Homo sapiens: one gene and its partner. The protein of the gene in region 2 purifies or fractionates together with the protein of the main gene of each other region. This does not show direct contact. Each region holds a gene or a part of one and is shown on either strand. Other genes may lie near its edges. The genes, in order: PKN2 and FRMPD2.

Region 1 (15,653 bases), on a different chromosome or scaffold from region 2:
GCTGGGATTACAGGCATACACCACCGTGCCCAGCTAATTTTTTTAGTAGAAACAAGGTTTCGCCATGTTGGTCAGGCTAGTCTTGAACTCCTGACCTCAAGCCATCCACCCGCCTTGGCCTCCCAAAGTGTTGGGATTACAGGCATGAGCCACCGTGCCTGGCCACACTAACCTTTTTTTGTGCAGGTGGAGTTTCGCTCTTGTTGCCCAGGCTGGAGTGCCAACAGCATAATCTCGGCTCATTGCAACCTCCGCCTCCCAGGTTCAAGTGATTCTCCTGCTTCAGTCTCCTGAGTAGCTAGGATTAAAGGCATGCGTCACCATGCCTGGCCAATTTTTTATTTTTAGTAGAGACAGGGTTTCTCCATATTGATCAGGCTGGTCTCGAACTCCTGACCTCAGGTGATCTGCCCGCCTCAGCCTCCCAAAGTGCTGGGATTACAGGTTTCAGCCACTGTGCCCTGCCCGCCGTAACCTTTTAATGAATACACAGGGCTTGGCACAGTGGCTCACACCTGCAATCTCAGCACTTTGGGAGGTTAAGGTGGGAGGATCACTTGAGCCCAGGAGTTCAAGACCAGTTGTGGCACGTCTGTAGTCGCAGCTACTCAGGAGGCTGAGGTGGAAGAATCACTTGAGCCTGGCAAGTCAAGGCTGCAGTGAGCTCTAATTGCACCATTGCACTCCAGCCTGGGTGACCCTGTCTCAAGAAAAAAAAGCCAGCATCGAAAATGGAGACTGAAAGCCTGCCATTGTTTGTTGTTGCTGTTAACAGATGATCCAGGTATTCTGGTGATGCTACTTGTGCCGCATGGTTATCCTGAACACGTTTTTTCACTGTATTGATGGTATGTTGAATTTTTTACTGTTAAGTATTTATGTGTAAATGAACACAAAACAATGATTGCTTATTGACAGCGCATAAATTCAAAGTCAGGAACGACAATGATGTTAAACAACCACAAACTGTCTACAAGAGTGGCTGTGACAATGACACCTTTGCCTTCTGAAGGTTCAATGTACACAAAGTTTGTTTCATATAGAAAATTATTTAAAATATTTTATAAAGTTACCTTCAGGCTATGTGTACAGGTGGATATGAAACAGAAACTCTCTCTCCTCTTGTTGACATTTAGGTTTTCATGGTGTGTCTAAAATCTACTTTGATATTAGGTGAAGCTACCAGAGCTTTAGCTTGAGTGGATTTTGCATCACATATTTTTCCTCATATTTTTACTTTCAGCTTCTCCATATACTTCTATTTCAGATGTATCTTTTTGCAAACATCATACCACCAGATTTCTTTTTAAAATCTAATCTTATAAATCCTGCTTTTAGCTAGTGAGTTTGCTCCATTTACATTAATTGTGCTTTGGATTAATTTCTACCATCTTGTCTTTTGGTTTAGAATTTATAGTCACTATAGTGAATAGCCTTGGCATTTCACAGTGAACCTAAAATCTAAAGTTAATCAATACCTTAACATTCCAACAATAAAAAGACTACACAATACTGTAGCTCTGGTGTTCACTATCCTGACTTTCCTGCTACTGCTATCTAGAATTTGTGCTTAGAAAAAACAAAAAAATTCAAAATCCAGTAATTCCTTCTTTTATCTCTTTGGTTTATTTAGATTTACCTAGGTGTTTGCCATTTTACTTATCACAAACCTTTTTTTATCTTGTGTTACCCTTCTGGGATCATTTTTTTACTTCAAGCACATTATTCAGAACGTCCATTAAAGCAGCAAGCATTCCCCTTTTAAAACATATTATATGCCCTAATTCTTACGAAAATTATTTTATTTTTATGTAATTCTAGGTTAACCTTTTTTTCCCCAACACTCTGAAGGTAATATTCCACTACGTGCATTGTTGCAATTGAGAGGTGAGCTGGTGTCTTTCCTTTATAGACATTTAGTCCCTTTTCTCTGGATAGTTTCAAAATGCTGTCTTTGGTGATTTGCCATTTCACAATGGTTCTACGCATACATTTATATTTATCCTGTTTGGGAAATATTGTACTGCTTGGATATTTTTCATCTCCGAGAAACTTGCAGCCATTATGTCTTTAAATATTGCCTCTCATTCTTTCCTCGAGTCTCCATTCCATCTTCCGTATCTCTTAATCTCCCTTTTATATTTCCCATCTTCATTTGGGATTGACTTTTCAGTTTCCAATCTTCAGTTTTCTTCAACTGTCTAATCTGCTGTTTAATCTTTCCACTGAATTTCATATTAGAACAATTACATTTTTCATTTTTGGATTTTAAAAATGTTTGTTAAAATGTTCATTTTACATGTTTATACTGATAGCTTTAGGTATATATATGTATATATACTTTATATATAGCTATTCTATAACTTGTATCTGGTAATTCTTTTTTTTTTAAGTTGGGGACTTGCTCTGTCACCCAGGCTAAATACAATGCAGTGGCATAACAGCTCACTGTAGCCTTGACCTCCTGGGCTCAAGCAATCCTCTGACTTCAGCCTCCAAAGTAGCTGGGACTACAGGTGCACACCACCATACCTGACTAATTTTTATATGTTTTTTTTTTTTTTTTTTTTTTTTTTTGTAGAGAGGCAGTCCCGCTGTGTTACCCAGGCTAGTCTCAAACTCCTAACCTCAAGCAATCCTCCTGCCTTGGCCTCCCAAAGTGTTGGAATTACAGGCATGAGTCATTGTGCCTGGCTGATAATTCTAATGTACGAAATCTCTGACAGGGATATCTAAATTTAATATTTCTGTTGGTTCTTATTCAAGGTAACTTGCTGTCTCTCGCATGTGGTTAGGGATTTCTGACAGTGAATTACTTGATCTTAATCTGTGGAATCTGATAGTCCCAACCTGGAGAAGCTTCCATCCAGAGAATATTTCCTTCCACTGTCAGGGAAAGAGTGACATGCAAACTAAAATATGAACTCGTCTACAGGATTTAAGCACAGAAGATAAGTCCTGATGCTATTGCAAGGTTTGCTATCCTCAAAATTGTGTTGCTAGAGAAATCTATCCTTGGTAACCCCACTTCTCTTGGGTGCCTGCATTTTCAAAACCTGCTCCTTGCCATTGTGACTCCTATCTTTTCCAACTTCCTGCTACTCTGCCATACTCTGTAGACTCAGCTTCCAGTTCTCTCAATATTCCTACTTTTGTGCTTGAGCACTCCCACTCTAACTCTTAGGTGCTGAAGCCCTAACTTGTCCAGACTCTGCTCAAGTTTGTTTGCTTGTTTTGGGGTGAAGGGTTGCCAGAGACCACTCTTACCTTTATTGAGATCATCAATACCTCAAATTACGTATCTTATTGACGGTCTTCCACTAATTTTATATGTATATGTATACATATTATTTTTAATAACTTTAAAGCCTCTACCCATCATACTAATGTATAAAGCCAGTATCTCAGAAAAACCCTAGACCTCAAAAGATGGCTGGAAGGTAAATAAGAATTCTAAATTTAAATTAAGGTTATGATCTGTGGATTAGTATTTGCTTCTTTGGATTTTTCATACTTACTCCTTCAGTGGCTTTGGGAATACTGGCAGTACTTGCAAAAATCTTGTTAGACTTGAATCTGTACAGCAGATTTACCAAGTCAATATATGATTGCAATTTCCATTATGTCCTCAATTTGTGTTACAGGGAGAGCATGGATCATTTTATATTTCTAAAATATTCCATTTGTAATTTTTAAGTAAGATTACTATAAAATACTAGTATTCTGTTTTATTCATTTGCCTTTTTGAGAAGCCAGGTCCTAAATTAAAATAAGCTAACCTCAAACAAGAGAAAAGTACATACAATACTGGTGCTTGCATCTTAATTAAAACAGGCTGTTCTTCATTCATCAACATTTTGTTGCTTTAAAAAAAAAAACTTCCTATTCTCAGTATCTATACACAGTAAGCAGTCCATAAATATGCTTCAAATAAAAGATGCTACTGACCTTACAGGAGCAGAATACAAACTTTTCCCATTATTCCCAATGAAGTGGACAGTTTGCTCTGAATGTTCATGGTTTTAAGCCTTCACTAGGACAAAAAGTACTTGCAAGAATGTTTATTAAAGTTAATTAGTCTTTGAGATTTTGAACACAGAAAAGTTAAAGTATATTTTAATCATTAGGAAGTTTCTAAAAGGAAAGAATACTTAAAACCAAAGTTACAAATTTCAATCTATATAGACTTTAATTTGTGCATTTGTGATAATTTATGACTGCAAAAAACACTTGTTTTCTTAGAATGACATAGTGAAAGGCACATTTCATTTGAATGCATAGTGTACCATTCTAAAATATCCTAATTTCTTTACAAAGTGCTTGAGCAGTCACATACACATACAGTAATAGCAAAATATATTTACACTCTATAAAGCTTAAAATTTTAAATCTGACTAAAATATATATATATTTTAAACTACAAAAAATTAGTGCTTTCTTCAGCTTAATTGTGTAAATAGACCCTGCCTTCTAATTTTTTTAGTGATTGACTTCAATTAAAAAAAAATTCTGTACACTGTGTAGTTACGAAATGCTGTCAGTTTTTAATGCTAAGAGCCTATTTTAGACATTACTTTCTTTGCTATTTGAGAACCAAAAAAGTGAGCAGACTGTACCTCAAAAGTATTTAGTGTTTTATTTTAATGTTGTATTAACACAGTTTAAATTAAAGCCAGACAATTAAGCTAAGTTCCTCTATTGTCCTTTGCCGAGGAAATTAACTGGCATTTTAAAATAACTTTAAACCACATATTGTTCCCCCATTCTATAAGATTTTCTCCCAAAGGATCTTGGGTAATAAACAATTTGGAAGGTAATATAAATGATCTCTGGACAATTTTAATTGTTCTCAGAGTACAATGAAAAGATGCTAAAACATCCCAGCAAATATTTATAAATGTTTTTAGCTCAACTCTCCATAAATCAGTGTGCTTTTTCATGTTTCTCATAAGATTTACACCTGAACAATTTTTAAGAGATGAGCTCACTGTAATTAAATAGTTAATTCAGTATGGTTACTTAACAGCTTGCTATTCCTGAGGTATAATGACCCTAACATGCTAAGCACAGGATCAAAGATGCTATTACTAAACTAAGAAAAAACAATAAAGTCATAGATTAGGAGAAAAAAATATAAAATCAAACCAAACCAAAACAAACAAAAAACTACAGGCAAGTGGAAAGTCATGGTTTGTAAAAAGACAACCCTAAAAGAGTATAAAAAGCCACAGACGGATCCTTTGAAGAGTTGTATAAAATATTTCATCAAATTATTTTTGAGACTTTTGAGGTACAGCTTTAGTGTTATAATTCATTTTTTAATAAAATATAGACTGTTTTATCAAAAATATTTATACATTCTGTTACAATATATTGCTTTTGCCCTCAATAACTGCCAATATAAAATCTGGATCCAGTGGCCTAAAATGTACAAATGCACTTAATGTAAATGCTGGAGTTTGAGGTGTCTGCTTGGCCACTGTACAAAAGTGATGAAGTGGTAAAATTAAATAATAAGCCTACAACATAGAATACATTAAAACTTGCACATATACATGTTCACAGCATGTATACAATGATAATCCCTACGGTTTAACCAAGTTATGGTTCCCTTCTACAGCAGACACAAAACCAAGGTGAACTAGGTTGGCAGATGTAGAGTGAATACCAAAAAAAGGGTAATCGGTTCACTGATTCTGAAAGATATGACTGAACATACTGAGCATCTAGACTTTGGGAATGCATACAGGTAACAATATCTTGGTTCGGCTGATTAAAAGTCCTCATTCTTAACATCTTAAGTAAATGCTGATCCTGTTTGTTTCAGCACTGTTTAATAAACAAAAAAAATTGTTTGGCAAGCAGCTCTGTTGGAAAGCTATAAGCCTGTTACATGATTGATAAAAAAGGCAATATAAAGTTTTCTCCTAATAAATATAGAACATTTATAAAATAAGACATCAATTCATTCTGTTTTTTTAAAAAAAATCAAGCCCCGAGTTGTATACAAACTGCCACGGTTTTTGATATTACAGTAATGTCTTTTTTTTTAAAAAAAGGAGCATTTGCCTTATTCAAACAGAATCATACTTTGTGTGAACAGTAATAGCATTCCAAGCCCTTTTTTCTTTTTATAAAACATAGTTAAGTGATTAACTTTCCTTCCACTTAAGGCGGGCATATGGCAAAGCTAGGGACTATAAAAAAGTGGTTTTTTTCTTTCTTTTTAAAAATAGACTATTGATCCAAAAGTATTCGTGATGGATTTTCATGGCCGATGTTCACTCAACTTAAACTCCATGAAACTGTTTCCAGTGCTCATATTTACGCTGAAGTACAATGAGGAGCCACTTTTGAAGAAGTATTAGAATGGTACTTTTAAACAAATCTTCACGTGTTTCAATAAAAACAACAACAACAAAAAACTCAGAAGCTATTGGTGGCACAGAGAGCAAATGAAGGGTTGCTATTTTTAAGAGGTCTTCTTGTGAGTCAGCTTGGTTTCGCAGTGTCTAGCAACTTAACACCAATCAGCAATGTAGTCAAAATCTCTGAACATTTCCTGCTCCTCTTCCGAAAGTATCCTTGGTTCTCGAGGTGGAGTCAGAATAGGTGCTTCTGAGGTAAATTCATCATCAAAATTACTAACATCTTCTCGTCCTCTTATGGTAGGTATAAATGGTGGCTTTACTTTTTTGTCCATCAGAGCGCTCCAATCAATTAGCTGGATCATAAAATAAAAAATGACTAGTTTAGTTTGTTAAATCTAATCGCTCTAGTTTCATAAAAAATTTTAAATAGTCACACTTACCCGGAAAAATGGGTGCTTTTTTACATCCTCTGCATCTTTCTCGCTAGCCCCAAGGCGCCGTTCAGGATTTCTTCTTAACAGCTAGCATAATGTAAAATAAAAAAGTTAAAATAAAACCAATAGAATAAAATTCACTGATAAGGATTATTACTTTAAAAAACTTAGATATATTTTGTCTTTTTTTGTCTAAGCCATGCAACATTTATGAACTGAAAAACAGCTTTTAAAGTTCTACTGGGAAATTTTCTTTAGTATAAAAAATTAAAGTAGTCTTTAAAAAATTCTTATCCTTATTTTAATTCTTACCCTTCTCATTATAGAAATGGCTTCTGTAGATAAGAACCTTGGATACCTTACTTCATCATTTACAATACTGTCAAAAACTTCCTCTTCATCATCACCAGGAAAGGGAGACTAGAAGAAATACCTTTGAGTAAGTTAAAGCAAGTTTTAAGGCAGTAAAATCTTATCACCCATTCAAAGTACAACCAAGATCCAGGCAGTGAAAAAGAAAAAACAGACAAAACAACAACAACAACAACAACAACAATAAACCCATGCCTACCAAAACAACAACAAAAGAACTATAAGAAGTGACAACAGATATGTATCTATTACAGAGGGAATACACCATATACTCTTTCTGAAATCTTTAAATTTTATAGACCCTTATAAAAAACTTGTCTATCTCATATATGATATGACTTTTCATTTAATTTCATTCCACTCCATTCCATTTTATTTCATTCACTCAATCACCTATTTGGCCAGACAGTCAATTTTTAGTGTCTAACAGACAGTAGGGAATATTTAGATAATAGATAAATCCTGAAGAACCTCAATCTTGTGGAAAAACAGAAGAAAATGGATAAGGTTAATATGGTAATAAATGTTATAATAAAGGAAGGCAATCTGCGGAAATACATCAGATATAAATGTGCTTTGGATTTTAAAGTCAACAGTAAATTAATGGTGGTAAAACACAATCATGGATTAGCAAGCATAATGACTGTATTAAGAAGCAGCTGCCAACAAAATTAGACTGAAAGGAACCCAAAAAGCACACATTGCCAGGCATTTTTAATGTTCTAAACACAAAAAGTTTTAGGGCATTTCCATAAGCTCAGTATTAAAATCATTTTTCATAATGACCCTGAGACATAAAAAAGTAGTTACATTATATTCAGTATGACAATTTGATTCACAAAGAGAGAAACTTTCAACTATGCTAAAAACGTGTCTATCAAATGTGACTGCCTGCCTCAGAATTTCAGATGGCTTAAAAATCACTCAGTCATTTTTTAAATCAGGAAACAAATGTCTAAATATCATTTAATTCCTTAAAATCACTGAAATGAATTAGTATCTTGAACCTTATTTTCTCACTGGCTATTGAAGAAATATAGGCTTACTTAGCCTCGTTAGATTTGATTTGGCTGCTTGCTTCCAATTAAGTTTTAAAGAATAATAAGCAGAAAGCAATATCCAGGGAAAGTGAGCAATCTTTAAGAATCTGTGAAAATAAATTCAGAATCCAACTTCTTAAGGCTGAGCTTCTAATCTTGCTCACAGCTAAGAAAATTTCAAAGCTTACAGTTACCAAAACCTTAGTTTGTTCATTCACTCACTCAAAATACATAAATAAAATATACTACGTGGGACAATGTAGTACACTCAAAATACATAAATCAAATGTACTACATGGACAATCTAATTTCTTCTGGGGACTGAAACAGTAAGTCAGAAGAAAATTTTATTTTACTAGGATTCTCAATGGGAATTTCAATGGATAATACAAAGACAGCACTTTGGTCTTCTGCTTGAACAATTTTTACTTGAAAACTCATTCTACAAGTCTGAACAGCAAAGAAATATCTATACATTTGTTAAAATATGTAGTATCTTTTTTCTGCAAATAGATTGTAAGCAAACAGGGCTAACAACTGAAAGCTAACAAATGTGTTTTCAGCACATTTAAAGGAAACCAATAGTCTGTTCAGATGTCAACACTGACAGTATCTAAAACCATGTCCAGCATTCTGTTCAATCTCTCTGGTATCTTCACTCCCATCTGAGACAGGAAAAAGGGGACTTGCGATGTTTGTTTATTCCTGGAGTCTTTCCAGTAATCAAAACTAGTAGAAGTATACAAATCTGAACATGTATAATATATCCGGTGAGTTTACAATTATTTGTAATAATAGAGAAATCTGACATAAACTTTAGCCACACCTTACTTTCATCATAGTTAAAAAGGAGTTATCACTAGCATTTCACTAATGCTATAAAATTATGAAGTAGACTGATGAGTTTTAAGTTTAGTTCTTTTCCCAGCTACCCTCTTGTGGAGATACTAAAGAGAAATTGCAAGAAACAACTGTGAAGAAATAGCCAGATCCACTGTCTTTTATCTTCTAGGTAATTAAGAGCTCAATCAATTAGCTCTTTTAAAAAACATGAAACAGGAGCTTCCTTGTTTTCTGCCAAACCCTCCAGTGGCTTTATAATAGGAGGGAGTAGATTCAACTGGATTAATTCTACAGTATTTTGTAATAAACTCATATTTTGCACATGTCATCTCTAATATGGAGAGTAAATTTTAAGCAAGCACATAATTGAATCTCATAAATCTCATACTTACTTGAATACTACATGAAACAAAACCAAAAAAACCCTCCAAAATGTTACTGTTAAAATAAAGGAAGGGGGTGGGGAGGAGTTCAAGTATGCCAGAGCTTACAGCAGATTAACTATTTTATGAGAACTTCTGGCACTCTCAGAAAGTAAAAGCCACTGTGGACTGGAGCTAAAATAAATCTTTCCAACCTAAACACTGCACAACAGCTTTTCTAAATAGAGGTGAAAAATTCAGATCTGGACCACTAGTCTTAAGAACAGAAACAAGGCTGGATGAATTGAAGATCCTGTCCTGGAGCAGCAAAGCATAATGCTTTAGATATGCTCTGGAGCCAGAGTGACAAGGTTAAAATTCCAGCTCCACCATATGAGAGCTGTGTGACTTTAAGCAAGTCATTAATCTCTTTGTGTCTCTATTTACACCTCCGAAAATGGGCAGAAGATCAGTACTGAGCTTATTAAAGGCTGTTGCAAAATTAAATGAACTAATATTTAAGGCATACAGTACAGTGCTTAGCACATGATAAATTTTAATTAGCCATACTTCTCCTCCTTTTCCAAGGAATCCACTTCAAATTGACATACCAAAAGGGGTTATCCATCCGGCGAAACTAAAACCATTTGTTTGGGGTAAGTGCCAATAAATGACAAGCATAGAACAAAACTTTAGAAATTTCTGATATTCAATTTGATAATTTGTTCATTCAGCACTAACTTCTTCAAACTTACAAGTGTACAAGGGAGGTTGCTGGCATGGGGAAACTGCAGAATAATGAACCAATCCCTTAAAATAATTTTTCTTGCATCTCCAGTTCAAGTCCCTTCAAGTAATCTTCAATTACTTATTAAAAGATTTACTCTTTCCCAATTTCATCCCAATTCAACATTTCTAACAATTTATAACATAATAAATTATTAGTCTCCTATTATTGCCTTAACATAACTCACTGTTTCCTAATAGTAATAATTTCTATGTACAACTCAATTATCCTCAGAAATTTAAGTTAATCTACAGAAAACAGTAGGAAAAAATGCGAATTTTTTCAACTCTACCATTTTTTAAGGTAACACTTCTTTCATTTTTTTAAAATTATATTTTATTTAACAATCTAGGAAGTTCACAGCCATCAGCAGTTCTATAGCAACTTCAGGTGCAACTGGGAATTCAGGAATCTCGGTGGAGCTGTTGGTGTAGCGAATACTTTTGATAGCACATGTGAAGGTATCTCTCTCAAATTGACCTCATTGGTTTCATTCTCAGCAAATTGACCTGGGCCACTCAACATGGCTTTTATCGTGCTGATGTTAATGTACGTTCTGTTTTTACAATAAATTCATGGCCATCGGATGATATCAATTTGACATACATGGCATCAGGGCCTTCACAGCTACCATAGGTTTTCTCCTCTCTCCATCCATTTTGTTCTTACGAAATTCTACTTTGCTTCCCCAGGAACTTCAGTAGTTTCCCGGTGAAGCAAGGATGCAGAGTGTGTTGCTCAGACGGAAGTCTGGAGGAAGTCGAAGGTAACATTTATTTCTGACCAATCTATAGTGGGCTTTTCTTTACAGGTACAGAGTACATTCCTTTTATTAGTCTTTCTGTTATTCCATTCCCTATAAAATGACTATGTCTTAAAATCAGAAAACATAATAAAAGTACAATACTGAAATACAAGGAACTATTTTCAAAGCACTGATAGTGCATTCCACAAACCACATAAAAATCTTTATTGAAGGTATTACAGAAAGATAGCTGACTACTAGTATACTATAAATATTTATAAAACTTAAATTCCACTCATACTGAAGACAGTATTAGGTGGTTTTATAAATGACATGCTTTATTATTTCAATCATCCTTCCTCTGTTCTCTTACCTATTTCACACTGCTTACCTCACCAACAAGCATTTCATATATAAGCACGCCAAGGCCCCACCAATCTACAGCCCTTGTATAAGAAGTTTCTGTTAATACTTCTGGGGCAAGAAATTCAGGAGTGCCACAAAATGTGCTTGTTCTATCTCCATATCCCATTCCTGGAAAAGATAAAATGTAAACATTTGTTAGCAAAGAAAACAAATCTAGCATAAAAAAAAAATCAAAGCTATCTTTGGGAGGCAAAATTAAAGTTGCACATTTGTGCATGGTGAACAAATTCAGACATATCTAAGACATTTCAAGAAAACAGTAAGGACTGGTATAGCAAAAACTGCAATAGCAACTATACTGTCTAATTAATGGGTAAATAGAAATAAGATATCCATGTTTCTTTTCAGTTACTTTTTCTTCTTGTCATTACAAGGGAGCTAAGAAATTATAACAAAATGAACTGATTGTGAAGTTCCATTATCTTTCCAATTCAATCTTAAATAAGTTTATTTACTTCATTATAAAATCAACATTCTAAAAAAAATAAGTTTCAAAAATACCAAAAAGCAAACCCTTGGATAATCAGAAGCTGACCAAATGTGTCATATAATACAGAGAGATAGGGCCGTGTGCAGTGGCTCATGCTTGTAATCACGGCACTTTGGGAGGCCGAGGCGGGTGGATCACCTGAGGTCAGGAGTTCAAGACCAGCCTGGCCAACATGATGAAACCCGTCTCTACAAAAAAAACAAAAACAAAAATTAGCCGGGCATGGTGGCTCCCGCCTGTAATCTCAGCTACTCGGGAGGTTGAGGCAGGAGAACTGCTTGAACTTGGGAGACGGAGGCTGCAGTGAGCTGAGATTGTGTCATTGCACTCCAGCCTGGGTGACAAGAGCAAAACTCTGTCTCAAAAAACAAACAAACAAAAAACATATATATATCTCAATATATATTATATATAGAGAGAGAGAGAGGAGGGGACGGGAGGGGAGGGGAGAAGAGGGGAGGGAAGGGAAGGGAAGGGAAGGGAAGGGGAGGGAAGGGAGAGTACAGGTTGAACATCCCTAATCCAAAAATCCAAAATCTAAAATGCTTCAAAATCTGAAACTTTTTGGGCACCAACATGATGCCATAGAGAATTCCGCAAGTACTTAAGATTAGTTTCATGCACAAAATTATTAAAAATATTATATAAATTTACCTTCAGGCTATGTATAAGGTATATATGAAACATATATAAATTTTGTGTTTAGACTTGGGTCTTGGCCTCAAGATATGTCATTATTTATATATGCAAATATTCCAAAATCCAAATAAATCTGAAATTCAAAACATTTCTCATTCTAAGCATTTTGGATAAGGGATACTCAGCCTGTATTAACATTTTGGCTAACTAGTTTTTAAATATATGTTCCTCATAATTTATTAATATGTTAATCAAATATATAGTCTACATATTGAAGATATTATCTCTATGTATTCCAAAGTGTTAAAAACTTGTCATAAGTGTCATCTTTTTAAGAATTTTAAAGAAAAGCTCTCAATCCTAAATTAAGAATAATTAGGTATGCATATATAGTGACTATAAAATAGAAATGAATGTGTGTCTATGAACCAAGACCTGAAGGGCACAATTAGATACATTAGCACACTGGAGTGGAGAAATTTTTTTTTGGCAAAATTTCTTTAACACTATCATAATGATTTTTATTTTCTTCAATAAAATATTATTTAAAAAAACAGTGATATAGTATTAATATCTATGTAAGTTCTGCACCAGCCTTTTAGTAACTTGGAGAAAACTAGGAAAAAGTTAATTAATGAAGAAATATAACTTATGTTTCTTGTAGACTGGTAAAACTCCATGGAAGTGGTTAATATCAGGCTCTAGATTAATAAATACCTGGTTTAAGTTCCAGTTCTGTCATTTGTTAACTGTGGGAGGTTGGGAAAGTTGTCTAACATCAAATTCTAGGTTTCTTCATCTGTATATGAGAGTTAATAATACCATCTACCAGTGTGGAATGATAAGACAAGGAAGACTCAGAAGGGTGAGGAGGTGGAAGGGGGGTGGATGATGAGAAATTACTTAATAGGTACAATGTATGTTATTTGGGTGACGAATATCCTAAAAGCCTTGATTTCACCACTATGCAATTTATGCATGTAACAAAATTGCACTTCTACCCTATAAATTTATATAAATAAAAATAAAATAAAAAATAAAATATTTCCTCCAAAAAAACTATCTACCTTCATACGATTGTTATAAATTACAGGAGATATGCATATGAAGCAAAATTCTTGGCACACGGTAAGCACTCAAAAGTTGTTAGCTATATAATCTACTAAACATGTTTTTATGATAATGCATTAATAAGTCTGGTTATTCAACACACATATTTTCTGCACCTTTTATGTTCTAGGCACCTGTGTCAAGTAGCGGGAACATAAAAACGAGAGTAAGACACAGTCTTTAAGGGGCTTACAGGAGACTGGAGGGAAATGGATATTTATTGATAATTTTATAACAACAAGGGAAGAGCAAGATAAGGTAGAATAGTGAAGAAGGGCTCCTAAAGCAGACTTGGGAGTTGGGGTAGTAAAAGGGAATCTCTGGTAACTTGCCTGTAGAGGTTACACTTGAGTTGAATGACAAGGATGAGCAGATGTTAGTCAGCAAATAGAGTTGGGATGGGTGACAGTGCTAGAGGGACACAGACTATAAGCAGTTCATTGTTGCTGCAGCAAAAAGTACTAAACAGAGAGCAGCAAGAGATGTGGCCAGAGAGGAAGGCAGGCAGATCAGTAACGGCACTGTATGTCACCTTATCCTAGCCACTGAAGAGTTTTCAGCAGGTATGTGCCATGGTCCGATCTGTATTTATATGGACTCCTTAAGCAATTCAGCAATTACATGGCAGGTTGATTTGGGATAGAAAAAGACTAGAAATAGGAACAATTAGGAGATTATTATACCTGTCTTGTCAAAACAAGATAATGGGTGAAAGGAGCTGACTGGAAATGATAGATTTCAGAAATATTCAGGAGGTTAAGTGGCAGTAGAATTTTGTGAATAACTACATACGGGAAGTAGAGAACAGGATAGAACGCAAGATAATTCCTTACTTTCAGATTGAAGGCTGAGGGGATTGTGATACCAACACCCAGACTACCGGCGGAAAATAAATGATTTTTGTTTGGGTAGTGTTTGAGGTGTCTCTTCACTATTCAGGCAGAGCTGTCTAGTAGACAGTTGAATATATATCTTTGGAATCCATAGGAAAGGAAATAATAGATTTGGGAGTCATTAGGATATAGCTGCTAGTCAAAAAATTGCAGTGAAGAGCAGCCGGCTAAGGAGAGATGCTGAGAAACAAAAGCATTTAGAGGAACAGTGTCCAATAAAAAGAAGCCCAGTCAAGAAAAAACTTACTTGATTCAGCAATTAGGTCAGTGGGTATGTGATGGGCATATATCTACAGAGTTCATTCATTTATTCATCCAACTACTTATTAATCAAACACTTACTGAATACTTAAGATGTACCATGCACTGTGTTATGCACTATGGAAACAAAGCTAAATAGCAAACAGAAGCCACCAGTGCAGAGGGAGATAGAGAATGTTAGTAACTAGTAAACAGAAAGAACTATGTCCATTTTTTTATAATTGGGGAAATAAGACTCAAAGAGGTTAAAACTAAGTTTTCCAAAGACAAACAGCAAATAGTGGCAAAGCCACGATTCAAACCTAGAACTGTTTAGTGCCTAAGCCCATGATCTTTATCCTTTCTTATGTTACCTCTGATTCAAATTTCCCCAATTTACTTATTTACTTTTGAATATACAAAAAACATACATGAGATACCTATCTCTATTTATTTTCTATTTTTAAATGTTTCAACTTTAAGAAGCTGGAAGGAAATTATCAGGCCTATGAAATTCACTGTGTACAGTCTCACCAGAATAAACGATTTTGGTGCTTAATCAATACTTCCTTAAAGTAGTGACAAAATTATTAATCACACAGAGAAGCTTACTATGATTTCTATACATCTAACCTTATTTGTATTCAGAGAACAAATTCTTAATGTGATAATTAGGTTATATAAGCAATGTTTTCATTGTATCTACAATGTCTTAATGAAGAATAAAGTTAAAAGTACAGTTTGTTTTCCATAGACAAACTTGAAAACTACTGATGCACAAAGAAACAGTAATTCTGAATCAGAAAAGAAACTTAAAAACATTCGATTACCTTCTTTGCAAAGACCAAAATCAGCAATTTTCACAAAGCCCTCTGTATCTAGCAATAAGTTATCCAATTTC
Region 2 (15,653 bases):
AAAGTTCTGAATTTAAAAAGCAACTTTGTCTCGAACCTTTAAATTTAAAGTATTATGCGCTATTAATCTAGTGACTTGTATATAAGAAGAACGATTTCACATGATGTTTGATTAATATGTAATGTATTCTTAATCTGTTGGTGATCTCCAGAGAAACAGAACCAGTAGTACATGAATGTGTGTGTGTAAGTGTGTGTGTGTGTGTGTGTGTGAGTATACACACATACACATTTTTTTTTTAATCTTAAGAAGAAGGAAGCTAAGGTCATAGCCTGGGGTAATAGACTCACTATTCATAGACTTATAGAGCAAGTACATACCCTTTTCTCCCACCTTATCACCTCATCACCAGGACTCCTGCATAAGAACAGCAGATGACAGCTAAAGAACAGCAAGGCCCAGATTCTACTTAAGAAGGAGTTTCTAGGAAAAGGTAAAGACAAGAAGGGAGAGAAAAACAAGAACAACAGAAAAAATTGAAGTCTCAGATACCTACTGTATTAGGGTTCTCCAGAAAGACAGAACCAATAAGATGTATAGATATAGATATAGATGTAACCAATATATAATATTGGACAGGATATCCAAGAACTGTGGAACAATTACAAAAGGTATAACATATGTGTAAAAGGACACCAGAAGGAGAAAATGGAAAAGAGTAGAAAAATATGTGAAACATTTAAGGTAATAATGGCTAAGAATAGATAGATAGATTGATAGATAGATAGATCTATATATATATGTAGATAGATAGATCTATATACATATATGTATAGATAGATATAGATAGATATCTTATATATTATAGAGGCTGAGAAGTTTTACAATCTGCTATCTACAAGCTGAAGACCCAGGAAATGCAATGGTATAATTCAGTCCAAGTCTGAAGGCCTAACAACCACAGAAGCCAATGATGTAAATCCCAGTCCAAGGGCAGGAGATGAGATGAGATGTCCCAGCTCAAGCTGGGTAGGAAAAAAGGGATGAGTGTCTCCTTCCTGTGTCTTTTGTTCTATTACAGCCCTGAATAGATTATATGATGCCTGCCCATAGCACAATTCAAACTCTGATCTCTTCCAGAAATACCCTCACAGACACGTTCCAAAATAACATTTCATCTGGGCAGCCCATGGCTTCATTAAAATTGACACATAAAATTAATTATAATACCTACAGCTATAGCAAACAGTAAACACAGCACTACTACTAGCCAGATAATCATAAATGCTCTCACTAAAGGTCTGTTTATCTCAGTTCCTATTACCCCATACATCATGTCCAGCTTTCAACAAAAAATTACAAGTCATGTATAAAAACAACAAAAAACTCAGTTTAAAGAGATAAAACAAGTGAAAGAACCAGACTCTGATATAGCAGAAATCTTGGGATTATCATACCAGAAATGTAAAATAACTATGATTAATATGCTAAGTGTTCAAATGGAAAAGGTGGGGCAAGATGCAAGAATAGATGGGTAAAATGTAAGCAGAGACATGGAAATTCTAAAAATAGAAAATTTCTTAAAAGTTAGCAATCAACAGCATTGCAAGAGAAATGAAGAATGCCTTTGGTGGGCTCATCCAGTAGATTAGACACCTTCAAGGAAAGAATCAAGGAGCTTAAAGATGTGTCAGTAGAAACTTCCCAAATGGAAATGTGAAGAAAACAAAGAATGAAGAAAAATGGAACAGAATATCCAAGAACTGTGGAACAATTTCAAAAGGTGTGACATATGTGTAAGGGAATACCAGAAGGAGAAGGTGGAAAAGAATAGAAAAAATTTGAATAATGGCTGAGAATATTTCAAAATTGATAACAGACACCAAACCACAGATCTAGGAAGCTTGGAAAGCATCAAGCAAGATAAATAAAAAAAACACATGTAACCCTAAACTTAAAAGTTAAAAAAGCAAAAATAATGGTAAATTAATATTCCCCAGCAAAAAAAAGTGAGAGAGAGAGAAATGTAACTTACATATATAGCAGAAAAAGGATAAGAATTACAATGGGCTTCTCTTCACAAACTGTTCAAGTAAAAAGATCGTAGGACGTAATATTTAAAGTGTAAAAATAAAAAAACTACCAATCTAGAACTCTGTATACTGCAAAGTTAACATTCAAAGTGAAAAGAAATAAGACTTTCTCAGACAAACAAAACTTCTGAGTATATTGGTCACCAGTAGGCTTGCCTTGCAAGAAATTTTAAAAGTTCTTCAGAGAGAAGGAAAATGATACAGAAGAGAAACTCAGATCTTAAGCCATTTATTTCCCTTATTCTTAATTGATCTAACAGATAACTGTTTTTCAAATTATAATAGCAACAACATCTTGGGTGATTATGCCTTATAAATAAGTAAAATAAATGCCAGTCAGTTATAAAGGCTGGAAGGGAGAAACGGGTATTACTCTGTAATATGTACCTGTACTACACATGAGCTATTTGAAAGTGGATTTAAATTTGTTGTAAATGTATACTGCAAACTCTAGAGCAACTACTAGAAATATTTTTTAAAAGAAGTATAACTTACATGCCAAAATAATATAAAATGCTCAATTACAACTAGAGAAGGCAGAAAAACACGGGAAGATCTTAAAAAGAAACAAAAACCAATTGCAACAAATAGAAAACAGTTATAAATATGGTGGCTATTAATCTAACAACATCAATAATCACTTTAAATATAAAGGTCTAAGTATGCCAGTTAAAAGACAGAAACTGACAGAGTAGATTAAAAAATAAAACCCAGTTATGTTGTCTAGAAGAAATCCCCTTTAAATATGAAGGCACAAATAGGTTAAAAGTAAAGGGAAGAATAAAAAGATTAATTTTAAGAAAACTAAAAGGATGTAGACAGATATACTATGCTAACACAAATTAAAAGAAAGCTGGAGTAACCATCTTAACTTCAGACAAAGCAGACTTCAGAATAGAGAAAATTATCAGGAATACAAAGGGGTATTACATAATGATAGAGGTCAATATTCCAAGAAGACATAACAATCTCTGATGCATATGCACTTAACAACAGAGCATCAGAATACATGACATAAAAACTGGTAGAACTGCAAGGAGGAATAAACAATCTACTATTATACCTGGAGACTTCAGCACCCCTCTATCAGGGATTAACAGATCCAGCAGACAGAAAATCAGTAAAGACGTAGTTAAACTAGACACACTGCCAAAGAACTGGATCTAGTTGATGGCTGTAGGCTATTTTATCCAACAACAACAGAATGCATATTCTTTGCAGTTTCACATGGAACACTCACCAAGATATATCACATTTTGGGCCATAAACTTTATTGATTTATTTATTTATGTTTATTTATGTATTTATTTTTTGAGACAGGTTCTTGCCCTGTTGCCCAGCCTGGAGTACAGTGGTGCAATCTTGGCTCACTAGTAACCTCCACCTCCTGGGTTCAAGCAATTCTCGTGCCTCAGCCTCCCAAGTAGCTGAGATTACAAGTTTAAAAGTACAGAAATCATACAAAGTATGATTTCTCTCATGGAGATTTGGTTCTGTCAGTAGAACCAAACTGCAAATCAATAACAGAAGGATAGCCAGAATATCCTCAACTATTTGGAGATTAAACAACACACTTCTAAACAGCAAATGGGTCAAAAAGGAAATCTCAAGATAAAATAAAAAATATTTTTAACTAAACAAAAATGAAAATACAAGTTACCAAAATTTGTGAGATGCAATGAAGGAAGTACTTATACAGAGACTTCTAACATTAAATGCATATATTAGAATAGAAGAAAGATCTAAAATTAATAATCTAACCTTCCACCTTTAGTAAACTACAGAAAAAATAACAGCATGAACCTGAATAAAAGAAAGCAAATAATAACAAATTAGAACAGAAATCAATAAAATTGAAAACAGAAAAACAATAGAGAAAATCAACAAAACTAAAAGCAGATTATTTGAAAACAACAACAAAACTGATAAACCCATAGCCAAGTAACCAAGAGAGAAAAAAAAAGAGAGAAGATGTAAATAACTAAAATCACAAATGAAATAAGGGCCATCACTACTGATCCCATGGATATTAAAAAGGATAATATGCCCACAAATGTAATGACTTAGATGAAACGGACCAATTCCTTGAAAGTGAAAATCTATCAAAACTCATACAAAGAGAAATAGATCATCTAAGTATGCCTATACGTATTACATAAATTGAATTAATAATTAATGGCCTTCCAAAACATAAAGCACCAGGCCCAAAGGATTTCACTGTTAAAGTCTACCAAACATTTAAGGAAAAGATGACGCTAATTATCTGCAATCTCTTCCAGAAAATAGAAGCAGAGGGAACATTTCTTAATTCATTCTATGAGGCCATAATTGTCCCAATACCAAAACCAGATAAAAATCTTGCAAGAAAGTAAAACTACAGATCAATAGTTTTCATGAACAAGGATGCAAAACTCTTCAAAATATTAGCAAATCAAATCCAACAATGTATAAATATAATCATACACCATGACCAAGTGAAATTTAATTCAGGTATGCAAGGCTGGTGTGAAAATTTATTAATGTAACCCACCACTTTCATGGACTAAAGAGAAAAATTATATAATCAAATTTATTAATACAGAAAAAGCATTTAACAAAATCCAACAGCAAATCATGATTAAAAACTCTCTGTTAACCAGGAATAGAAAGAAACTTCTTCGACTTAATCTTTTTAAAATATGTAAAAAAAAAAATCTACGGCCAACACATGACCTAAGGGTGTGAAACTAGATGTATTCCTGCTAAGATCAGGAAAAATACAAAGATGTCCCCTCTCACCATTGGAAGTCCTAGCTAATGTAATCAGACAAGAAAAGGAAATAAAAGGTATATAAATTAGAAAAAAAGAAATAAAGTTATCTCTGTTCCGAGATGATATGATTGTCCATGTATGAAATCTCAAATAATGAACAAAAAACCTCCTAAAACTAATAAGTGATTATAGAAACATTGCAGGACAAAAGGCTAATACACAAAACTCAACTGTTTTGACTTTAATTAACATCAGCAATGACAACTGAAATGTGAAATTATAAACACAATATCAATTATTATATTAACACCAAAAAATTTTGAAGTATGTAGAAATAAACCTAACAAAATATGTATAAGATCCCTATAAGGAAAACTACAATATTCTGATGAAAGAAATAAAAATATTTGTTTTAAATATTTTTAAAATCTAAATAAAGGAAGAGTATTCTATGTTCACTGAGAGAAGACTCAATATTGTTAAAATGTCATTTATTCTCAACTCGGTCTGTAGATTTAATCCCAGAAATTTATTTTGTGAATATCAACAACTAATTCTAAAGTTTAAATGAAAAGGGAAAACAAGTCACCTAGAACAGACAACACAATACTGACGAAGAGAAACAAAGTTGTAGGACTGATCCAACTATCCAACTTCAAGAGTTACTATACCAAGGCAATCCTATACAAAAAGAACAAAGCAGGAAGCATCAAGCTACCCAACTTTAAACTACACTACTGGGCTACAGTAACCAAAACAGCTTGGTACTGGTACAAAAACAGACACATAAACCAATGGAACAGAATAGACAGCCCAGAAATAAGGCCACACACCTACAACTATCTGATCTTCAACAAAGCTGACAAAAACAAGCAATGAGGAAAGGACTTCTTATTCAGTAAATGGTGCTGGGATAATGGCTAGCCATATGCAGAAGATTAAAACAAAACTCCTTCCTTAAACAATTATATAAAAATAAACTCAAAATGGATTAAAAACTTAAATGTAAGACCCAGAACTATAAAAACTCTGGAAGACAAAACCTAGGCAATACCATTCTGGACACAGGCACTGGCAAAGATTTTATTACGATGATGTCAAAAGCAATTGCAACAAAAGCAAAACTTGAAAAATGGAATCTAATTAAACTAAAGAGCTTCTGCACAGCAAAATAAACTATTAGTACAGTAAACAGACAACCTACAGAGTAGGGGAAAATATTTGTAAAATATGCATCTGGCAAAGGTCTAATATCCAGCATTTATAAGAAACTTAAGGAAATTCATAAGAAAAAAACAAACAACCCCATTAAAAAGTGGGCAAAGGATATGAACAGACACTTTTCAAAAGAAGACATACATGCAACCAATAAGCATATGAAGAAAAGTTCAATATCACTGATCATTAGAGACATGCAAATCAAAACCACAATGAGATACCATCTCACACTGGTCAGAATGGCTATTAATAAAAAGAAAAAATAACAGATGCTGGTGAGGTTGCAGAGAAAAGGGAATATTAATACATTGTTGGTGGGAGTGTAAATTAGTTCAACCATTGTGGAAATCAGTGTAGAAATTCCTCAAAGAGCCAAAACCAAAACTACCATTTGACCCAGCAATCCCACTACTGGGTATATACCCAAAGAAATATAAATCGTCGTATCATAAAGAAATACGCATGTGTATATTCATTGCAGCAGTATTCACAGTGGCAAAGACATGGGATCAATCTAAATGTCCATCAATGGTAGACTGGATAAAGAAAATGTAGTATATATACACCATGGAATATTATGCAGCCACAAAAAAGAATGAGATAATGCCCCTTTCAGGAACATGGTTGGAGCAGGAGACCATTATCCTTAGCAAACTAACACAGGAACAGAAAATCAAATACTGCATGTTCTCACTTATAAATGGGAGCTAAATGATGAGAACATATGGACACAAAGTGGGAAACAACAGACACTGGGTCCTACTTGAGGATGAAGACTGAGAGAAGGGAGAGGAGCACAAAAAATAACTATTGTGTCCTAGGCTTAGTACCAGGTTTATAATATAATCTGTACAACAAACCCTGGTGACACGAGATTTCCCATATAACAAGCCTGCACATGTACCCCTGTACCTAAAATAAAAGTTTAAAAAGTAAAATAAAAAATAAAAACTTCTAATATGCATTCTTCAATTTAAAAAAGAGAAAAAAGAGTTATTATAGGGTATATTAATCAAGACAATGTGATGTTGGTGAAAGAATACACGAATAGATTAAAGGGACAAAATAGAGTCAAAAAATAGACCAATACATATACATTTAACTGATCTTTGACAAAGGAGCAAAGGCAATTAGTCTTGAGATAGTCTTTTCAACAAATAGTCAGCAAGGGCCTAGGGAGAGCCCAGACATTACACTCATCCAGCTACAATGAGGCACAGTCATTTCTTCCACACAGTCAGTTCAGAGAAGGCCAAGTGGGAGCTGAAACTCTCATTCCCACCTAGTGGTGACTTGCGTCACACCCTAGACTTCCACTTTCCTCTGGTGATAACAAGATGCCCCTTGGCCTCCCCACGGGGGTGGTGCCAGGGAAGGTGTAAGAGAGGGTCAGTACTTTTACCACCATGCAGTGGTAACAAGGCATCCCCTGACGTGTTGCATGAGGAGCAGTAATAAGGTGTCCCCGACCCTCCTAGCAAGGGTGGTGTCAGCAGAGGACTAGAGGGGAGCCAGAACAGTCACAACAAGATGCCCTCAAGGTTATCAAGAGAGACTGAGTGGGGGGTCTAGACTTCCATTTTTACCCGGAAGTAATGAAGCAGAGCCCTTCTGTCCATACAGTATCAGGGAACATCTGCTAAAAATGAAGCTCTAAGTAAGGTCCAGAGTCTCATATCATAGTACCCAAACATCTTGGATTCAGTCGCTATTGCTCATCATATCAAAAACCAGGAAAATCTCAACTTGAGTAAAAAAGACAACAGAAGCCAGTACCAAGATGATTCAGATGTCAGAATTATCTGACCAGGATTTTCGTGAGCAATGACAAGCACAATAAAAACAAAGACATAGAAAGGCTCAACAAAGAAATATAAAGAACCAAATGGAAATTTTAGAACTGAAAAATACAATAACCAACATTAGAAACACTATGGGTGGGCTCAACAGCAGAATGGAGAAGACTGAGTAGAGAATCCACGGATTGAGAAGAGAACAAGAGAAATGACCCAATCGGACAACAGACATCAAAAGACATTTCTGTATCAAAGGGCATTATCAAGAAACTGAAAAGACAATCCACGGAATGGCAGAAAATATTAAATATTGGCAAATCATCAATCTGATAAGGGTCTAGTAACTGGAATACATGAAGAACTCCTACAATTCCTTAACAAAAACACCAACAATCCAATTTCAAAATGGGCAAAGGACTCAAATAGATATTTCTACAAATAATATATGTGAATGTTCATAGCAACATTATTTATAACCAAAAAGTGGAAACAACTCAGTGTCGATCAAGGGATGAATGGATAAACACAATGTGGTCCATCCATACAATGGAACATTACTCAACCATAAAAAGAAATCAAGTACTGATACATTCTACAGCATGCATGAACCTTGAACACGTTATGCTAAAGTGAAAGAAGCCAGATGTAAAAGCCTACACATTGTGTAATTCCATTTATATGAAATATCCAGAATAAACAAATCCATAGAGGCAGAAAGTAGGTTTAGGTGCCATGCTTAATATGGAGTACTCACATGTAGGATGTCTACAAAGAAGTTTCAAAACTTAACAGCAGAAAGCAAACAATCCAATTAGAAAAATGAGCAAATGGCATGGAAAGACATTTCACTGAAGATACACACATCGCAGATAAGCACATGACAAGATGTTCAACATCACTGGCCATAAGGGGAAGGCAAATGAAGTCTATAATGAGATATCCCTCCCCACCTATATGACAGGAAAAAAAAATAAAGTGACAATACCAAATGCTTATGAGGATACAGAGAAACTGGATCTCTTCTAAGTTGATGGTGGGAATGTAAGTGGTACAGCCACTTCAGAAAAGAGTTTGTCAGTTTCTTTTTAAAAAAGAGAAAAACTAAACATACTCTTACTATACAACTGAGCAATTGTGCTTCTGTGCACTTATCCCAGAGGAAAAAAAATGAATATCCACACACAAAGCTGCATGTGAACGTGTGTGTTTTATTTGTAATAGCAGCTTTATTTGTGATAGCCAAAAACTGTTAAGTCAAAATGTCTTTCATTTGGTGAATGGTTAAACAAATTGTGGTATATTCATACCATGGAATACTACTCAGCAATAAAGAGCAAACTATTGATACGTGCAACAGCTTGATTAGATCTCAAGGGCATTAGGCTGAATGAGAAAAACCAGTCTCAAAAGGTCACAGCTTGTGAGACTGATCTCAGAGATAGTAGAAGCAGGGTGGTAGGGAGTAGAATGGGAGCTGGGGGAGATCTTTGTGGCGATAGAATAGTTTTGTATCTTGATTGTGGTAGTGGTTACATAAATCTACACAAGTATTACAATGGCATAGTACTTTACACACATATTGTACCAATGTCAAATGTCTGGGTTTGCCATTGTGCTGTAGTTAGGTAAGATATAATCACTGGGGGACACTGGAGGAAGAGTATAGGGACTTCTCTGTGCTCTTTGCAACTTCTTTGCAACTTTTTATCTGACCATATATGAAAATTAAATGTAAACAAAAATATGCAACAGATTAGGAGAAAATATATATAATGGCAAAAGGGTTACTATTTACTCATCAATTAGAAAAAAACAACTCTTTAATTTAAAAGTTAAGAAATAAACAGGTGAAAAAATACAACTACTCAATAAATATTTGAAAAGATTTGCTGTGTTTCTAGTAAATCAGGGAAAACAAAACAGCAATGAGAATTTATCAAGAGGGTCAAAAATTTAAATATTTGATGTTAGCAAGGTGGGGGCTGCAGACCAGGCCCTCTCATAACACCCATTAACATGGGAATTAAATTGGTATAGATTTTTCAGAGCCATCTATCAAAATTGAGAACATGTATTTGCCAAGTCCCAGCAATGCCAATTCTCTGCCTCCTAGGGAACATTTCTAAGCATATAGGAAATAGGATGCACAGAGGCGTGTTGCATGTGGATGTTGCTGGTGGGGCAGGTGGTACCTAGTACAAGGGTGGCCAGCGTCACTGAAATGCAGCCTTCAGAGGGATGCAGAAGCTGAACAGGCCTGAGAGTTCCCCCTTCACGGAGAGCATAGCCTTCTCTCCTCCTGCAGTGATGATTGAGGGATAAACCTCTGGCTGATGGGACTCAGGCAGGGCCAGGCCGTCCGTGGGTTCCCAGCCTAATGCAGGTTGAGAAGTGGCTTGCCCTGTCACAAACCCCACTGGGTGAATGCTTTGTTTAAAAATTTTCCTCTAGAAGTGAAGCAGCTTCATTCAGTCAAATTAATCCATCCAGAGCAGACCATTAAAAATACTGGTTAGTGAAGAGGGGGTCCTTAACTCACACTTGACAGACCCAGGAGACCTGCTGTAGCACAGATGGGAAATGGGAGACAGCCAAGGTGTGAGGGTGAAGGCTTGTCCAGAATCCCACTCCGAGTGGTTTCAGGGAGAGGACTCTGGTCTCAAGCTCTTCTCCTGGGCTTTATTTACCACATACCCCTCCTCAGGCCCTGAGTCAGGAAGTTGCTTCCCACAGTGATATCTACAAAGAGCTATACAGCCAGCTGGGATAAGGGATGAAGGTCAAACCGAAAGTGACTATTTCTGTGCAAAGAATCAGAGAGAAAAATCTTATGGGCCCAACAGCAGTAGGTAATTGAGAAAGTGAGACTAAGAAAAGTCATAAAAGAAACGGTGATTCCTTATTAAACAATATGGAAAAACTGTCCACTCCTGCCTATAATCCAAGGAGCTGCTAGTGGACGTGGTCTCGAGGCCCATTTTCATCCCTCAAGTGGGCTTCGATGATGAGCGCTCAGTGCCCATGAGGTGGCAATGACACTGTTCCTCTCAGAGACCTTACTTATGTGTGGCCAATTTGCGACAGCTGATTTGTAAAGCAGTTTGGCAATCTGTATCAAAAGCCAAGGGATGTCCATTCCTGCCATCAGGGTCTTCCTCTTCTGGGAATTGATGCCAAGAACATAATTGACAAAGATGTATATTCAAAGATATTTGCCATGGTATTATTTGTAACAATGAATAAAGGCAATGCCAAATGTCAGTGGTCTTTGGGTTTCTCTCTGCCCTGGCTCCCTCTTCAAATCACTCTACATGCTCCAAAGTTACCAACCATCAGTCCATCCCCTCCACAGCCATGTCTTAAGCTCAGACCCGTTTCTTGAGCTCCTGCTTGGTGATCCCAGGATGTCCTTTAGACAACCCCCTTAGATGTAGAGAGCTGAATTCACCTTCCCCCCACCTCCTCCTCTTTCAACCTCTCTTATTTGAATACAGCAAATGGCATTCCCACCACCTAACCCCTCAAGCCAAACATTCAGACGACATTTTTGTCTCCTTCCCATCCCTCAACTTCCCAGCCCGTTAATCACCATCTCCAAAATCTCTCTAAAATCCGCCTGTTTCTCTCCAACCCCACCACCACTGACCTGGTCTAAGCCACCAGCACCCTCCCCTGAATGACCACTGAAATGTAAATTCTACAAAATGGTTTCCTACAACCATACCTTGCCCCTGCCCTGATCCATTCTCTGTCTTGCAGAGTCCTCTTCCTAAAACACAAATCTGACCATGTCACACCTCGTGAAAACTTTCAGCCACTTTCTATTCTCCAAAGGATCAGCTCAGATCCTGAGCAAGATTTGCAGGACCTCAGGCCCACCGCTTTGGACTGATCTCTAGCAGCTTCCTCTTTCCCCCATGGCCTTTTTCCAGCCTTAGACGCACCACAACCCCCTTGCCTCCTGTCCTTCTGCAGGCTCTGTGGGGACACTCGCATCTGGAGCTCCTTCTTCCCCCACTGGCTGAATGACTCAGTAAATTAACAAGTGAATACTTCAGATGCTGCCTGCACTCTGGACTGGCATCATACAAAAATGATACTGATAGAAGAAACAAAAGAAATTCCTAGATGGCACTTTTTTAAAATGTCTAATACATTTACTCTCCAGCCAGACACTGTTTAACCCATCTTGAATCTATTGAAGAGTGAGTTCTGACAGCTCAGCCTTGATCTGCCTCCTGCCTGGCACCAGCCCTCCTGGAACTGGTTCCTGTGCACCATCCTACACATCTCCTTCCTGCCTCCCTTCACTACCTACTCTATTTCCAACAATGTTGGGCTATGATAGCTCAAGCAAATACAGGAATAAGGAGGCTTACAGCCAAGGCAAGAAAAAAAAAGGGAGGGCAGTTAACAGTAGAGCTGCCAGCGACCAGTAAAAGGAAGCCTGAGGAATAGGAATCAGCCTCGAAAGCAGACTTCTGCCAGGAAAGCAGCTAAAAACACTGATATCTCAGGGTGAATACAATTCAGGAGGGGAATGAGAATAGAAAAGCATAGTGGCTGGAAGAGCAGGCTCCGAGGTCAGAGCTGGATTGATCCCACCTCACCGTGGGCAAGTTACTTCCTCTCTTTACTCGTTTATACCATGAGTTATTGTGTCTGGCATATGGCAGTTTTTCAATAAATCCTAGCTATTCATATTATGAATCCTGAGTATATGGAGAGGGCAGGGAATAGGCTAGAGACAAGCCAGCAAAACTGGGGTTTCAGACCAGAAATGACTTCACTAATGGAGCTGCAGGTAGCATTGTCCTGGGCTGCACACCGCAGCCCTTGCTATTCCTGAGCAGTTGAATTCATAGTCATCTATTCATGGTGTTCTTTTTAATAAGTCCAACATTTTGGTGAGTGACAGCTTCATCCCCAGAGAGAAGGAAGTATTCTTCCTAATTCTTCCTTCGTGCCCCCTTCATTTGCACCCATGAGTCATTTTCTCACCACTCTGTATTCTGCTCCTTAAACCTTTCTTGGATTCTGTGATATGCTGAAGAAGGCTCCTACTGGCCTGTGAGAGCCAATTGTTAAATTTCCAGAAATTTTGTAAGCTGGTCATTAAACACAGCCATTACCAAAAAGTATTATAAAAATCTCCAATTAAATAAGTTATATTAACAATATGTTGAAACTCACCATTTCCAAATTATTTTACTGCATTTTACTGTTGTCTGTGCTTTGGAACTTATTTAAATGAAATACATTTCTATGATGGAAATACTGTGTAATGGTGTGCTGGTGCACAGCCCTTCCACCTTTGTGTTCAGCGATATCACATTGGGAGCTTGTGATTGGCCATGGTGGTAGTATTTATACCACAAAAATTGGCAAAAGCTACAAATTAGGGCTTGGTTTGCTGTTTTTTCATTCCCTAAGAAAACTAAGAAAGTGATGGAGAAAATGTTCATGCAGATTAAACCTAAAAGTGTGTCGCGTCCATAGTTGTTACATTGTGAATAACACAAAAATTGGGAAAACACTCTTCCAAATTCAAAAACTATGATCTGATCCAGCAGTCACTCATGTCATTGACAGATGAGTGAAGTTAAGACAATCATCTTCATTGTTTCACTTTCTTCTTACTTGTCAATGTAAACAAAAATATCAACCAACATTCATATTGGAACTACATTCAGTGGTCAATTGCAAACAGGCTGACCAAGGGTATAAGAGTTCAGCAAAAATCAACAAATGCATGCTGTGAGAATCAAATGGCTATATAGAATTTGTAATAAAGAGTATTTTATATTTTATTACTTGTAAATTGTGCAATATACATCCTTCATATCAGTAAAATTTATAATGAACTTATTAGATGCATATGTATTTGTTTTTGCTCACAGTGCTGGCAGCACCAGCTTGGAGACCTCCCCTTCTCTACATTCCACTGTTGTTTTCTTAGGTTAGGCCATCTGTCATCATTCCAGGTTTCATCCTCTCCAATCCCACACCCATATTGCTACTAGATTAATCTTCTTAATATTAAATGCAGACACGACACATCCTTCATTAAAACTACCAGTGCCTATCTGGGACCTTCTGAGTGAACTCTGGGCCATAGAAGGCCTTCCTTGCTCTCCCCTGTTCACCTCTGCAGCCTCCTTTCTTATCAGATTCCCCTGTTCCCACTTTACTAAAGTTAGGCCAAACTGCCTGCTGTTCCCAGAGCATGCTTTACTTATTCATGCCACTGGGCCTTTGCATGTGCTTTTCTCTGCTTGGGATGCCTTTTCCAATCCCCCTGCTCCCAACTCCTGCTAGTGTTCGCTTAGCATTAAAGCCATGCTCAAGCAACACCTCTCCCAGGAGCCCGTGCCACCTCCATTTCGGCACTTGCTATCACCGCCAGTTTTCATGCAGGTCCAGCATTCTGCCCCCCGACCCCCACTGTCCTACAACCTGGAAGATCCTCTGGGCTGGGGGAGACATCCCCAGCATTTGGCATGTGGCCCCAGGAGATACCAAGTAAGTTCTCGTTGAATTAATGAACTACTTAATTGGTTTCAGCTACAGCCTATAGCAAATCACAGGATTTAGCCAGGAGAAATAGACACGACTCATCTCTGAACTCAATTGTTGCTTTAAAAAAAAAAAAAAGTTGTTTACACTGTTGAAAACCTCAACTGAGTTTTTTCTTTCCTTTAAGCATACAAATAAAGCCAGGTGAATCATTTCTTTTCCATTGTTTTCTGGAAGTCAGCTAGGCATACCCTGAGTCTTCTTACTTTAAACCACTGATACTCTTTAAGCAATAACCAAAACACTTGCTTCTGAAAGATAGTGACAGCCATGATTTACTGGGCTACTCAAATGCTCCAAGTATGTTCTAAGTGCCTTACGCGTGTCACCCCATGAATCCTCAGCAACATCGTAACGCATGGGGCATTATTATCCCCATTTTACAGGTAAGAAAAACGAGTCTTAGGAAAGTTAAAAGAGTCATTTGAATTTGCACAGATGCTGAATAGCAAAGCAGTGATTCAAACAAGGGGTGGTCTGATTCTAAAGTCCATGTTTTCTCTTCTGAGCCCATTCTTTATTGCTAAAAAACAAATACAATGTCTATCAGGCTTAGCCAATGGCCTGGAACAAATAATACTCCAAATAATACCACAAAGGGCACTGACACAGGTCCTTGCCCAGCTGTGTTCTTCTTATTCCGGATACCTAGACCCAGTAAGAAGTTTGCCCTTTCCCTGACCAGATTTATAGGAGAAAACTGAATGATGCCAAGGAATACCTGCGTCCTTCGTTAAAGGCTGCATCCAAAAGTCTCCGTGACCAGGTCTAGGCCTTCATCATGGGACAACTTTCCAACAAGGAGCAGGGGTCTCTTGCAAGTCTGTCCGCGGAGCTCCCTGCCACCAGCACTGTTGCCGCTGTCTTTGTTTACTGCTTGTCACTAAGCACTTGCTGCCCAGCGAGTGAGTCAACAAGGCCCCTTCCCTTTCCTGCCACCACTCTCATTCCCTGGGTCCTGCGCAGTCTCTGGCCTGTTAGCAGGCACTGCCACCCCAGCAGCCTGCGTCCTCAAAGCCAGTGACCCGTGAGAGAGCCAGGAAGAGCTCAAGTGGATTAGGTGCCACTGAAGGCAATGGGATTGCTGCTCAGCAGGGCTTTTACGCTGATGTCTCTTTATCTCCTGGCCCAATCAAAAGAAAGAGCTCTGCAAGGAACTGGGGGCAGCCCCAGAGCAGAGGCTTAGTGTCATCAACTCAAGAGTCCTCCATGCCCTTTCATAGTGTCAGACATTGGACCTGCAACCAACAGGACAGGGAACCATGTGAAAGCAGCAGG

Evidence for each region.
Region 1: the proteins of FRMPD2 (region 2) and PKN2 purify together in Homo sapiens (affinity purification with mass spectrometry; 3 studies listed by BioGRID and IntAct, with this or other methods). This does not show direct contact.

The regions. Positions count from the first base shown.
Region 1 is NC_000001.11:88,824,316-88,839,968, reverse strand, and holds the end of PKN2 (serine/threonine-protein kinase N2), read right to left. Parts: coding exon 15,583-15,653; intron 11,489-15,582; coding exon 11,346-11,488; intron 7,226-11,345; coding exon 7,118-7,225; intron 6,893-7,117; coding exon 6,812-6,892; intron 6,725-6,811; coding exon 6,521-6,724; 3' UTR 3,714-6,520; downstream 1-3,713. UniProt on the Homo sapiens protein: PKC-related serine/threonine-protein kinase and Rho/Rac effector protein that participates in specific signal transduction responses in the cell.
Region 2 is NC_000010.11:48,259,447-48,275,099, forward strand, and holds the start of FRMPD2 (FERM and PDZ domain-containing protein 2), read right to left. Parts: upstream 15,251-15,653; 5' UTR 15,122-15,250; coding exon 15,097-15,121; intron 1-15,096.